Regions from separate parts of the Homo sapiens genome. Here region 1 is reported to be linked to region 2. Evidence: microRNA targets listed by miRTarBase, many of them from high-throughput screens and not tested one by one. Region 2 holds a microRNA gene; the other region holds the end of a gene's coding sequence.

Evidence for each region. The annotated mature microRNA hsa-miR-4297 reads UGCCUUCCUGUCUGUG and lies in region 2 at 1,976-1,991, shown strand. An mRNA with a match to its seed (bases 2 to 7 or 8) in the 3' UTR can be bound and repressed. Matches are read on the target gene's strand: a 7mer-m8 pairs with bases 2 to 8, a 7mer-A1 pairs with bases 2 to 7 and ends in A, and an 8mer does both.
Region 1: the mRNA of PITPNM3 is a reported target of hsa-miR-4297. Seed matches in the 3' UTR shown: 7mer-A1 at 2,755-2,761, 8mer at 2,962-2,969 and 8mer at 2,996-3,003.

The regions. Positions count from the first base shown.
Region 1 is chr17:6,452,632-6,456,025 of GRCh38, reverse strand. It overlaps PITPNM3 (PITPNM family member 3), which reads left to right. Exons shown (of 20, transcript NM_031220.4): 20 at 383-3,394. The coding sequence ends at 688. Among named protein-coding and RNA genes, the nearest start is that of PIMREG, 9.9 kb to the right of the region's middle. RefSeq lists silencers at 658-787, 808-937 and an enhancer at 1,507-2,225.
Region 2 is chr10:129,841,946-129,845,339 of GRCh38, reverse strand. It overlaps MIR4297 (microRNA 4297), which reads left to right and starts at 1,966; the gene lies at 1,966-2,041. EBF3 (EBF transcription factor 3) reads left to right here. Exons shown (of 17, transcript NM_001375380.1): 12 at 2,138-2,203; 13 at 3,047-3,224.

The sequences.
Region 1 (3,394 bases), not on the chromosome of region 2:
TAATTAAAATAAAATAGGAAAGAAAATCCAGAGAACTCTGGTGTGACCCATGGGTACAGGTAGAGATGCATGGTTGTCCAAAGCAGGATGGGGACCCTGGAACAGTAAAGAGCTCCCGACTTCCCCAGGGTTCCTTGGAGAAGCTGGAGGTGCCTCCGTAGAGTGTTCCCGGGAAATGATGGGGACAGGATCAGGATAAGGGGCCTGCCCCACCCCTCCGCCTGATGCCTGTCCCTTCCCCTCCCCTCCTCTCCCTTCCCTTCTTCCGCTTCCCTTCTTCTCCCTCCCCTCCCCTCCCCTCCCCTCTTCCCCCTCCCCTCCCTTCTTCCCCCTGCGCTGCTGCCCTGCCCTGCCCTCCCCTGCCCTCCCCTGCCCTCCGCAGTTCCTGAGCGAGGGCTACGCCGCACACCTGGCCGCGCTGGAGGCCAGCCACCGCTCACGCCCAAAGAAGAACAACTCGCGCATGATCCTGCGCAAGGGCAGCTTCGGGCTGCACGCGCAGCCAGAGTTCCTGCGGAAGCGCAACCACCTGCGCAGAACCATGTCAGTGCAGCAGCCCGACCCGCCCGCCGCCAACCCCAAGCCCGAGCGGGCCCAGAGCCAGCCCGAGTCGGACAAAGACCACGAGCGGCCGCTGCCGGCGCTCAGCTGGGCGCGTGGGCCCCCCAAGTTCGAGTCGGTGCCCTGAGGGGTGGGCTGTGCTCAGAGCAGGGAGCGGGGGGCCCAATCAGGCTGCCTGCGGGGACGGGAGGGGGCTGCCCTCTCCCCGACACAGGCGTTTTCCTGCTTTTTCCCTCCCGTGTCTGTCCAGCAGTGTCCGACCAGAGCGGGGAGGGATCCTGCCCGAGCCCGGGGGGCTCCCTGAGCTGCGACGGGGTGAGGTCCGGGGATCTCGGTGCAGCCACTGCTGCCTCCCACGGGCCTGCGACCGCAAGCCCAAGTCAGGGTTCATGTTTGTGTCATCCTGGGGGCAGGCTTGCCCGGGGCTGAAGCGTTTGGGCAAAGTCGACCACCCTCCTGCGTCCCCAGGCTTCACAGCGAGCTAGGCAGGCCCTCAAGGGGGCAGCCCCAGCCTCGGCACCAAGCGCCGCTGGCAGGCACAGCCTCTGGGCTGTCTTGTGGAGGTGTGAGTGGCATTTGTGCCCGCCCTTCCTGTGGTTTGGGTCACCATTTTGGGGTTGGCGCTCTTATGGCAAGATGGCCACTTTCTGGGAGTGAGAGCACATCCCCGGGCTCATGTTACGCCGTCTCTGTCCACAGCCCTCGGGGGTGGGGTCTGGTGCTGACGGTCTGTCCTGCAGCTGTCCATTGTCCCCAACCCCCGTTGTCCTCAGTGTCCTCACCATTTCCCTGTGGCCCTGGAGGCCAGGGCTTCCTCTTCCCGGAGCCCTGCCTCATGCCCTCCCTTGGGAGGCTGCAGCCTTGGGCTCTGGCTCAGCTGGGCTGGCTGTGAGCCCCTGAGCTGGTTGCTTGCCCTCTCTGGGCTCCGTCTTCCTTCTGTTATTGGAGGGGTCCCCCTAGCTGAGATTGGTGTGAGTCTTTGACTCCCAAGATGTCCTGCAGTTTGGCCCATTGAGGCTCTTCAGGCCTAAGGGTCCCTCCGAGTGTCCTGTGACCCACACCTTTCACACAGCCTGGGAGAGGGGGTCTGGGTGGGCTGGAAAGGAGGGGCTCTTAAAGGAGCCTCTCTGGGTGGGCTGGGAAGGGATCCCTACTCCACGGAGAGGTGCAGCTGGTTTGCCTTGCACTGCGTGTCCCAGGGACAACCCACTCAAACTGGGTGTCCTAGGGACAACCCACCTCCCTCTCCTGCCAAAAGGTTACTGATTGGGCTCCCCATAACCCCAGCTCTGCCAGGACCCTTTTATCCTTTTTGGCTCCCAGAGGCATAGAGCTGAGATTCCAGGGTTCTAGGGGTTCCTGGAAGTTTGGCTCCAACTGTTGTATTCTCTTCCCTTTCCCCTGCTGCTCAGTTTGTGCCCATAACCTCCTCCTGGGTAGTCCCCTGAGGTTGGCAGGACTTGGCCCTTCTGGGGCCCCTAAAGCCTGCTCAGGCCCTCCTGCTGCTGAACCTTGGCCTGGGCACTGCTTTCCTGCATCCTGGAAAACCCCGACTCCCTGGCCCAGGCCCACACCTGCTGTGTGGGGCTGCCCACGTGGCCACTGAGCCCCCATAGGCTGCCATCAAGGCCGGTCCCAGCAATTTCAGCCAGGCTGCCCCAGGGCCCAGACGTCTGTATACACAGCAGGCACCTGTGTCAGCTCAGTGTCGCTTCTGCTCAATGTCTACCTCTCGCGGCTCCCATGCAGCCAGTGACGCTGCTGGTGGGGGCGGCTGGCACCGCCGTTGTGAATTGCCTGGCAAATTGGGTGCCCTCCTGGGGCTGGAGGGGTCTGGGCTCCTAACCCCCATCCCTGCTCTCCCCACTAGAAATGTGTCTTCAGTCTGCCAGCTCTTCTGCTCTACTTCCAGTGCTGCATCCTGCACTCAAGCCCAGGGCTGCTGGCGAGTCTATGGGGAGGAGTGCGGATCAGGCTCAGCCTCAGCCTCAGCCTCAGCCTCCTCTATGGTCCTGTCTCCTGGCGGTTCACAGGTGCCCATCCCCCCTTTAACATTTCACAGTTCTTGGCTTTCCAAAGGCACCAGCTCATATGGCATAGCCACCCCAACCCTAATCCTTCCCCCAAATATCCTGATTTAAACTTGGGCAGACTTAGTCTGATTCTTGAAAACTCTACCATCTCCTTCTTGCAGAAGGCACTGGTTACACTAAAATGATAAAATAATTAGTATGGGGTACTTTGCTCCCAGTTACATTCCCTCTTCCCTGAGAACCCCAGGCTAGGCGAGAGAGGGAGAGGGAGAGAGAAAGAGAGAGAGGGAGAGAGAGAGAGAGAGAGGGAGAGAGAAAGAGAGAGAGAAAGAAAGGAAGACAGAGGAAAGAAAGGAAGACAGAGAGAGGAAGGCAGAGAGAGAGAGGGAGAAAGAAAGACAGGAAGGCAGAGAGAGAGAGAGAGAGAGAAAGGAAGACAGAGAGAGAGAGAGAGGAAGAGAGAGAGAGAGAGGAAGAGAGAGAGAGAGCTCATGAGCCAGGATCCCTGGGGAATTTGAAGTCAGTGTGACCAGGGTTCTGTGGCTCTGGGGTCAGAGCTGGGACACAGGACCCAGCAGGAGGGCCACCACCCCTTCCTTTTGGAAACAGCTCTGGTTCCAAGCAGCAATCAGGTAGGAGGATCGGGGCTTTGGCTGATGATGCACACACAAGATGCTGATGGTGTACGGTGAGATATTGTGAACGCAACAACTGGAGCTGTAGTTGGCGTGTGTGAGTGTGTACCTGCGGTTCTGTTTAGTGGCGAGACAAGGTATGTTTCAGTACTGCTTTCACGGCAA
Region 2 (3,394 bases):
TTACACTTATGGTTGTGGCTAAGAAATTTCCATCGAAATGCTTTTCAAACACCATTCGGTGCTAATGTATTCACAGCATGAGGCAGTATGCATAAGCTCGGCATATTGTAACAAAACAAACTTGTTCAAAGCATCCTTGACTGATTGGGTTACCCGTTTTGTGTCTCTCTGATATGACAAGACCACCACTTAAGAGCAGCTCAGAAAGTCGGGTTCATTAGTTAAGACACTATCCAGTAATAGGCAGATTAGGATAAGAGCATACGTAATTTTCCTAAACTATCCTTATGTTCCAATTGCAAAGTACCATATGGACAAGTAGGTGTAGGATATTTTCTGGGAATGAAAAATAGCTTGTAAATGCAGCAATCTTAATTGCTTTAATCGTTGCTTAAAATTGAAAGGCATGTAAAAAGTCTTGCGATATGATAGGAGAGATTATGAGTAATTATTAATACCTCTGAAAAACACTTTATCTTGCTCACAGAGAGCTGCTCAGGCTAACGAAACCTGATTAAGACAGCTGGGCCTTTCATTGATTATACCTGCTTCATGACAAGTCTAATTCTTTATTTGTATGCAAACTAGATGCATGCAACATCAAGCGTCGGCACCAATTTCAGAGGTAAATGCCCATTGTCAGAGCCACCCATCCGGGAACTTTCTGGATTAAGTGCTGTTCCTGGGAACGTATGGCACGCACAAAAAGTGATGCCCGTAGTGATTAATCTTGATAAATAAAGGGTCCAGAGTCGGCATGTTGGGGGAGATGGGGAAACAATGAGGCGAGTGAGTCCTTGGAAGGCAGTCGTTGCCTTCTCAGATGTAACACAGATTTAACAGTGGAGTCATTACGGGCCTGCTTCCCACCAGCCGACTGCACTGTATTTGCATTAAGAGGTTCAGGCTGAAATCTGCTTATGTGAATCTGCAGAAATCATAAGCTGGTGTGTCTGTGAGGCACCACAGAGCTCTCTGGGAAGGCCACAGCCACAGGCCCAGGAGCGAAGGCCACCTGCCTTACTTTTTGTCCAGTCACCTTTGGGGTCTCAGGTTAACAAGAGGTGCCCAGATGTAGACACACCTCCACACCTAAAAGGTGGACCAGCAGAGCTCTCCTAGACCGCAGAGCTCTCCTAGACCGGGCCTGGGGTCCGCAGGAGGCCACTGTGCTCCAGCCACCCAGGGAATTTTTCTCTTCACCTCTGTGCTAGCACTGTCCTGGCTGAATGGAGTTGGAAAGAAACTCTCTGCCCGTCTTCCATGCTGGGGAGGGGTTTGGGCCTGGCCTCGGCTTATTAAAAAGCTCAGCTCCGTTTTATTACAGCTCAAGGTAGAGAAAGTTAAAACGTAAGCCCCCATTTGTATTTAAAATTAACTAAACTCTGGATTAATCCGCACAATCGTAAACTGGAGGTAGGCGTGCAGACGTGGATAAGACAAAACTCGGTGCATCCAAGCCCCCAGGCACAGCGCGCACACTCTCGGAATGTGAAGGCATTTATGAAGTCCTTTACAACATGCAGTCAAAGAGGTTAATTGAAAAATTTCTTAATGTCATTATGAAAGAACTAGATTAACCCAAGTTAATTCACTTTATTGTTCAAAATAAAGAGGAATAAGCACTGAACTCACTTGCAAATTTGGGGCGTGAATTAGGGGTGAGATGTTGTCTTTAAGGACTCTGCCAGTTTAATTAAGATATGGAAAATTACTTATTGTTCTTCACCACTAAAGTGCTAGGAATTAACAGGCAAATGTGGTGCCTGGGCCTTTCATATCTCCGCCATGTGTGTATTTGTTTAATACCCATAAGACTCCGTCATTAAACCTCAGGCACGGATTGGGCTCGTTCTCCGCCGGCCCTCCCGCTTGTCCGTGCACCTCTGTGAGCCCAACCGGATGGAGGAGCCACAGAAAACGCTTTTATTCAGCCTCCTTGTAAAGGCCACAAACAGTGTTGTCAGCACGCACGTGCCTTCCTGTCTGTGCCTGCCTTCGAAGTGCACGGCAGGGCCAGGACGGGTCGCTGTGGGTGGGGACTGGTCTCCACACCCGCAGACGGAACTGGTACTGAAGGGCAGTGATAACTGGCCGGTTCCTCCCATGAATCACCTCCTGTCTGCTCTTCCTTTAGGAGGTGTTACTGAAGCGGGCGGCGGACCTGGTGGAAGCCTTATACGGAATGCCTCACAACAACCAGGTAGGTGGAGGGCGGCTCCCCTCGCCCATCCTCCCCCCCATGCCAGAACCCGTGGGCAGCCGGCGTGGCTCCAGTGTGGGCTTTCTGGACATAAGCATGCTTTTCCAGCGACTCCACAGGAGTCTGATGTGAGAATGGCTTCCCATCCTTGCCCTCACGCTAGGTTCACGTAGAAATGATGAGTTGGTGTCAGGACCCAAAAGCAGAAAAAACTTGTCACAGCGGGAGTGCACAGCCTTGAAACCCATCTGCAGTGTGCAGTGGCGGGTGGACGGTGTTGGTGCCGCTGGGAACCAGGGAGGGCTGGATGGGCGCCCCACAGCATGCAGGACAGAACACAGCAAATGTTGCTCCCTTTTTTTTTTTTTTTTTTTAGACAGGGTCTTGCTCTGTCACCCAGGCTGGAGTGCAGTAGGGCAGTGTCGGTTCACTGCAACCTCCACCTCCCAGGTTCAAGCGATTCTCCTGCCTCAGGCTCCCGAGTAGCTGGGATTACAGGCGTTTGCCAACACACCCGGCTAATTTTTGTATTTTCATTAGAGATGGGATTTCGCCATGTTGGCCAGGCTGGTCTTGAACTCCTGACCTCAGATGATCCGCCTGCCTTGACCTCCCAAAATGCTGGGATTACAGGAGTGAGCCACCGTGCCCAGCCAGATATTGCACACTTTCAAAAGCGTCAGTAAATGATTTTCTAGGGGAAGCTCTTTGCCCATTAAGAAATAGATTTGGTCATGGTCTGGGCAAGGGACAGTGGGATGCCACCATGGTGGGCCCCCGAGAGTGCGGCCAGCTGGGCCGGGCCTGGGGTGACAGGCCGGCTCCCACTTGCTCCTGCTGCAGGAGATCATCTTGAAGCGAGCGGCGGACATCGCCGAGGCGCTGTACAGCGTTCCCCGCAATCACAACCAGATCCCCACCCTGGGCAACAACCCTGCACACACGGGCATGATGGGCGTCAACTCCTTCAGCAGCCAGCTAGCCGTCAACGTGTCAGAGACGTCACAAGCCAACGACCAAGGTATGCCAGCATGCTGGGAGGACCCCTGCCCTGAACGCCCTCCGAGGGTTGGTTGAGGCCTTAGCTGAAGAGGCACGTGTCCAGGGCCAGCTGGGGAATGTCCGTAGCGTTCTGTTCTCTCTGGCTCTGCTGGTTCCTTTGCTCAGGAAGACCTTGCTGCAGGTCCTCCC